Homo sapiens: one gene and its partner. The gene in region 2 interacts genetically with the main gene of each other region. Each region holds a gene or a part of one and is shown on either strand. Other genes may lie near its edges.

Region 1 (2,854 bases), on a different chromosome or scaffold from region 2:
TTTTTTTTTAAACAGTGGCTGCCTTTTCTCTATCCTCTTTCCTTTATTCATTATCAGCGCCAATGAAGCAAAGACCCCTGGCAAAGCATAGTAAGTATTAGCCAGTGATGAAATTTTTGCTGTGTAAAGGGTTGGGGCTGTAACACCAGTTATGTCAGTGAGGCTTTTTAAAAAAAAAAATTCTTACTGTAGGAAAATCTTAATATAAGGTTTAATGAGAGAGAAACACTTCTGGGATATAACCCAAACTTTTCTCCATGCATATATGCACATGAGTATATATATATTTCCAAAACCGATCCCATTATACATATTCAAGTAGAGGGCTGTATGACCTGGCCACATGAGTTTATTGATAACAGTAGTAAAATATACTTTAAAATGAGTTTTTAGCAATAATAATAGCATTCTAAAAGTTTTATTACTTCAAAGAAAAGCTCAATTCATCTTTGATCAATTTTGGTTAAGTCAGTGTGGATACTTGTATTAGAGACTTAGGTCTGCTTTGGGTTTTTGTATGCTCTTGCTATACAGCACAGCTCACTGTTTATCTTAAGAGGAATATTTGACTTTCTTTTGAAACTCTTCTTCCTGCAACCACAGATAGCATATGATACCTTCAGACATAGCTTGAAGTCTGTACCCCGAAGTCAGCCATAGAAAAGTACTTCTCAAATCAAAGTTAATCTAAAATATAACTATTTCCTGTAAGAGCCACAATACTTCAACGCTGGTGACTGCATTACATTCATGGCAGCAGCAGGGCCCAATGCATTCTTTTTTTTTTTGAGACGGAGTCTCGCTCTGTCACCCAAGCTGGAGTGCAGTGGCGTGATCTCGGCTCACTGCAACCTCCGCCTACCAGGTTCAAGCGATTCTCCTGCCTCAGCCTCCTGGGTAGCTGGGATTGCAGGCGCATGCTACCATGCCCTGCTAATTTTTTTCTCAAGTGATCCACCTGCTTCAGCCTCCCAAAGTGCTGGGATTACAGGTATGAGGCACCACGCCCGGCTCCAATGTATTCTTTAGTTGCCTGTTCCATCCATGTATCTAATATCTGTATTTCCTTGATCAAGTTTCATTTGTCTTGTCTTTCCCTGTGTAGTTTTAAATTTAATGTCAAGTTGTCAAACAACGGAAATAATTTTGAGTAACTGGGGAGCTAACAAGTTGGGTTTCTTGCCTTTTAGTCTCTTCCAGTTGCGCCTCTTCTCCTTGGTGGTCTTCTTAAGCAACAGACTCTTCCACAAGACAGTCTACCTGCAGTCGGCCCTGAGCAGCTCTACTTCTGCAGAGAAGTTCCCTTCACCGCATCCGTCGCCTGCCAAACTGAAGGCTACTGCAGGTCACTGAGTTGCCTGCCATCCAAAGGGGATGGGCGGGATTGGAAGAAGCTGTGGCAGCTCTTTTCCCTGTTCACCTCCCGCCTGCCAGGGAAGGCAGGACCCGCTCTGCCAAGGGCCCTCTGCGTATTCCCTTCTCTCTGAGGAATTGAAATTTTTGTCTCTGGTGCACGTAAGGCAGAATGTTCCCTGACACCAGTGTGTGGATTTTTAACATCACCGTGAGTCTGAAAGGACCACAGGTTTTTCTGCAGCTATTTTCTAGCATTTGCCAGTCCCTGTGCCTGGACTGATTGGAACACTTTGTTTTTCTCCCTGTGCCATTTACCCTTCCACCTTTCCATCCTGCCTTCTACCACCCTTGGATGAATGGATTTTGTAATTCTAGCTGTTGTATTTTGTGAATTTGTTAATTTTGTTGTTTTTCTGTGAAACACATACATTGGATATGGGAGGTAAAGGAGTGTCCCAGTTGCTCCTGGTCACTCCCTTTATAGCCATTACTGTCTTGTTTCTTGTAACTCAGGTTAGGTTTTGGTCTCTCTTGCTCCACTGCAAAAAAAAAAAAAAAAAAAAAAAAAAAAAAAAAGCCTGAAGAGATGAGATAGGAGGAAAGACCTCACAGCCAGATCTGCTGGGTTTTGAGGAGTGATTTTCTTTCTTCCCCTTGAAGGGGAAAAAGCTATTTTCATTGGTACATTTAAAGTCCCCCAACTATGGGGAGGTACCAATTCTGGACAAGTGCCACTACAACAACACTAAACCTGAACTTTTCAACTCCGTTGGTGGTGGGAGGCAGCGGGCAGAAATTTACTGTTGGCCACTGCCAGGTCTATTTCATATTTCAAAGGAATATTGGGTGCTGCATATAGGAACTGAAGGGGTCAATGTATTAAACCTGTGATTGGTTGTTTTCCTGTCATTTTGAGAGACTAAATGTGGGGGGCAGATGTCAAAATACCTGTACAATTTTAAAATGTCACAATTAAACATGAGCTGGTTTCCCACAAAGTGTCTAATGGTTGAATTTGCAAATCTTGATTTCGAGAAATGTATTCATGGAATATAAGACTTTGTCTTGGATAATTTAGTTACAGTTTTGAGAAATTAGCCCTGAAAAATGTTCCCTGAGAAAGCCTGGATTATATGATTATAATCACATTTATATTTGGTAGAAGAGTCAGATTATTACTTTTTCTAAAGTCTATATGTATATCGCTACTGTATATTCATGAAGGGAGAAAGACCCTCCTAGATATTGGTGTATTGAGTATTAATCGAGGGAAGCCGTTAAACATCTGGTTAACAGAGACCTTTACTATGTGCAAGATAAAATATGGAATTAAAAATTGTTGCTGGGGCCAGGCATGGTAACTGATGGCTGGGATTCCAGCACTTTGGCAGGGGCCAAGGCAGGAGGATCACTTGAGTCCAGGAGTGCGAGACCAGTCTGGGCAACATAGTAAAACCCCGTCTCTATTAACTATAAAATAGGTTAGGCCGGGCATGGT
Region 2 (3,500 bases):
CCACCTTGTGTGTGGGGGACAGAGGGGGGCACATTTTCATAGTGTTTTGTGGTTTTCAAGGCCGTGTCAGATGTAATCCTGGACACAAAGTAAAGCACCTGCTTTTCTTGATTTGGAAACTGAGACTCTGGGAGGCTAAGTGAACTCTACAAGTTCTATTTTTTTTTTTTTTTTTTTTGAGATGGAGTCTCACTCTGTCGCCCAGGCCACAGTGCAATGGCGCGATCTTAGCTCACTGCAACCCTCCACCTCCCGGGTTCAAGCGATTCTCCTGCCTCAGCCTCCTGAGTAGCTGGGATTACAGGTGCACACTATCACGCTCAGCTAATTTTTGTATTTTTAGTAGAGACGGGGTTTCACCATGTTGGTCAGGCTGGTCTCAAACTCCTCTCCTCGTGATCCACCCGCCTCGGCCTCCCAAAGTGCTGGAATTACAGGCATGAGTCACCGCGCCCGGCCCACAAGTTCTATTATGGGTGGTTTTGTGCAAGGGGGCTGGGGTACCAACAGGAAGCAAAATCTCCCAACATGCAGGCCACGGATCTTTCAACTCACAAGACCTTTGAAAGAACATTTGTCAGACTGCCAAGTTTAGGTATGGATTGTGGCTCATCCACTAAGTCTCTGTGACCATGAAGAAGTCGTTTCCCCTCTTCTGATTCTCATCCTAAACTGAATATGACAGTGCCGCCCTAGCTGGCAGAAGGTGGGTGGCGAGGAGGAAGAGAGAGACAAGCATGAGCTGAGTCACTCTGCTCTCTGCACTCGTCTGAGTCTGTCCTTGCAAATCACCAGATAGGACTGGTGGGCACCATCACGATTTCACTGATGGGAACAGCAGTCACATTACAGGAGAGGATACATACATGGAATCTAAAAAAAAATGATTTCCAAATAAGACTGGAAAACCTCTTCAATCTCCCAAAAATATAGTAATGAAAATGACTGAAGAGGCAACATGAATTCTAAAAGATCATCCCACTGCCTTTTTCTTTTTACTCCCTAAGGGATGGAACTTCCTCATGATGCTTTGGATTCTTTTTCTGAAAAGACACCCCACTTTTTGGTGACCCTGCATGCTTCTAATGTTTTTCTCATGCCTGCCTATAAAGGTTTTCTATTTGGGTTCAGAGTCAATAATAATAACAAGCAACAGTAAAGAAACAGCAGGCATTGTTTGTTGAGGGCCTATGATATACACTGTTGCTGAGCCCTTTCTAGCAACCATCCATAATCCATACAACTACCAGGTGATGTCAGCATTACCTTCTCTATGTTACAGATAAGAAAACTAAGCCTCAGAGAAGTTTAGTGACTTGGCCAAAGAAGGCCATCTTTATAACGGCAGGGCTGGGATTTAAACCATTGTATGACTGATTCCAAAGCCTGTTTTTTCTGTTCCTATTGCATTATGAGGCCTCTAGTCAGTTTACAAAACGCATCAAAGACTCTGGGCAATGCTTCTCGTTCGTGATTTCCTCCCATCACTATCCCGCAGAATGGAATACCTTCCAGGTGGTCAGAAAGCTCTCCCATTGAAATCCCAGCTGCAGGGTAAGTAGGGTGGATATGAAGTGGGCTGGGCAGATGGAATGGCAAAGAGACCCCACATGCTTTCCCCCTGTACCAAAAGAATTGTGATTTCACTTCCACATCACTAACCTGGTGAGGCACAAGCCCAAGAGAGGTTGGAGGCTCATTCATCCGATCGTCACTGCTGCTGGCAATGGCATAGCCCCTGAGGACAGGAAACAATCAGAGCTGCTCATTTAATCCAAGTTTAACACATGGGAGGATGATCTAGCAGAAATCTACATAAGATTCATAAGGATAACTAAAATGCCCCTTGCTGGGCAGTGTAAGTTAGCAAAAAACTAATTTCCCTGGGACAAAGGGCAAGAAGAGTAATTTAAACATGCATGGTTTGGAGTCAGAAAGACCTGAGCTTGTGACCATAGGCAAGTTGCTTAACTTTTCTGTGCTTCAGATCCATCATCTATAAAGTAGGAATGAGGGAGCTCTGATTAATAAATGAGGAATCTACTACATCAACTGCCGAGTGCAATGTTCGGCATATCAGAGGCCAATAAACATTAACTCACTTACTATGAAATAGTCTTGTCAAACATCACAGCACATTTCTGTACTGAAAATTTGAAGTGGAAAATTTTCTAACCTTAACTTCTTGAGCTGATATAAATGCTAATGAAATGGAAGAAATAAAAGTGAAGAATGAATTGGGCAGAACTAATACACTACTCTCTGAACAATGGAGTGATACTTGTGGCACCAAAAAGATGTGACACAGGACCTGGTGTTTAAACTATGACCAGGGCAAATGTGGCAGACAGAGGCTCAGTGTCAAGGAAGCATAAAGTCAGCTCTCAAAGATTTTATCCCAAATACTTCCTGTCAGAGAGTGGCAATAAACTTAAATGACAGATAGCTAAGGTGGATGACAAAGAGGAAGACAAAAAAGCCCCGCTTTTCATTTATCTCAGAGTACCCATACTAGTTACATATACAACCACAATTTTCAACTGCTGAGGAAAGCTTTGAGTCACACAAGAAATAGAATATTCATGTTAATTTGCATATTGACTTTCTGAGAACTGGAAAAATAAATCTTTCAAAAATTCGATTTTCTGCTGCCTGTATTGCAAACAGCATAACAAAGTCATTAAACATAGTCTGGAGCCACACTGGTTGAGCTAAACCCTGGCTTTTCCATTTACTATGTAAATTTGGCCACTTACTTATCCTCACTATGCCTTGATTTCCCCATCAAAACTGCGACTAATAATAATAGTTCTTTCCTAATATGTTTGCTATGAAGATTAAAGGAGGCCGGGTGCAATGGCTCACGCCTGTAATCCCAACACTTTGGGAGGATAAGGTGGGTGAATCACTTCTGATCACTGAGGTCAGAGGTTCAAGACTAGCCTGACCAACATGGCAAAACCCCATCTCTACTAAAAATACAAAAATCAGCCGGGCATGGTGGCGTATGCCTGTAATTCCAGCTACTTGGGAGGCTGAGGCAGGAGAATCACTTGAACCTAGAAGGCAGAGGTTGCAGTGAGCCAAAATCGTGCCATTACACTCCAGCCTGGGCAACAAGAGCGAAATTCCGTCTCGTTAAAAAAAAAAAAAAAGATTGAAGGAGGCAAAATTTCTAAGGTGCTTAGAACAGTGCCTAGCACAAAGTAAGCCCTATATAAGCGTTGGAAAAATAAAATAAACCATAGTGACTTTGTCCGGAAAGATGCAGAAATGTGGCCACAAAGGAAACATGCCAAGTTATCTCAGCCCAAAGAACCAGACCTGCTTTTTCTAGTCTTGTTTTTTTGAGGGTGAAATAGTGAAATTCTCTGTAAAGTCAGACTGAGAAAAGGCCATGGGAGACACTGATGAACAACTGCCTACAAAAGCTTTGTTTAAATACTCATCTCCTACTAGCAAACTCACCCTTCTGGATGCTGCAAAACAGATACCATCAA

The links. Genes that interact genetically often act in the same process or in processes that back each other up.
Region 1: of ATG7 (region 2) and EI24, changing one enhances a phenotype caused by changing the other (phenotypic enhancement), as found in Homo sapiens cells (one large-scale study listed by BioGRID).

Annotation. Positions count from the first base shown.
Region 1 is NC_000011.10:125,582,331-125,585,184, forward strand, and holds the end of EI24 (etoposide-induced protein 2.4 homolog), read left to right. Parts: intron 1-15; coding exon 16-90; intron 91-1,190; coding exon 1,191-1,353; 3' UTR 1,354-2,354; downstream 2,355-2,854. UniProt on the Homo sapiens protein: Acts as a negative growth regulator via p53-mediated apoptosis pathway. Regulates formation of degradative autolysosomes during autophagy.
Region 2 is NC_000003.12:11,362,897-11,366,396, reverse strand, and holds part of ATG7 (ubiquitin-like modifier-activating enzyme ATG7), read right to left. Parts: coding exon 3,469-3,500; intron 1,739-3,468; coding exon 1,663-1,738; intron 1-1,662. UniProt on the Homo sapiens protein: E1-like activating enzyme involved in the 2 ubiquitin-like systems required for cytoplasm to vacuole transport (Cvt) and autophagy.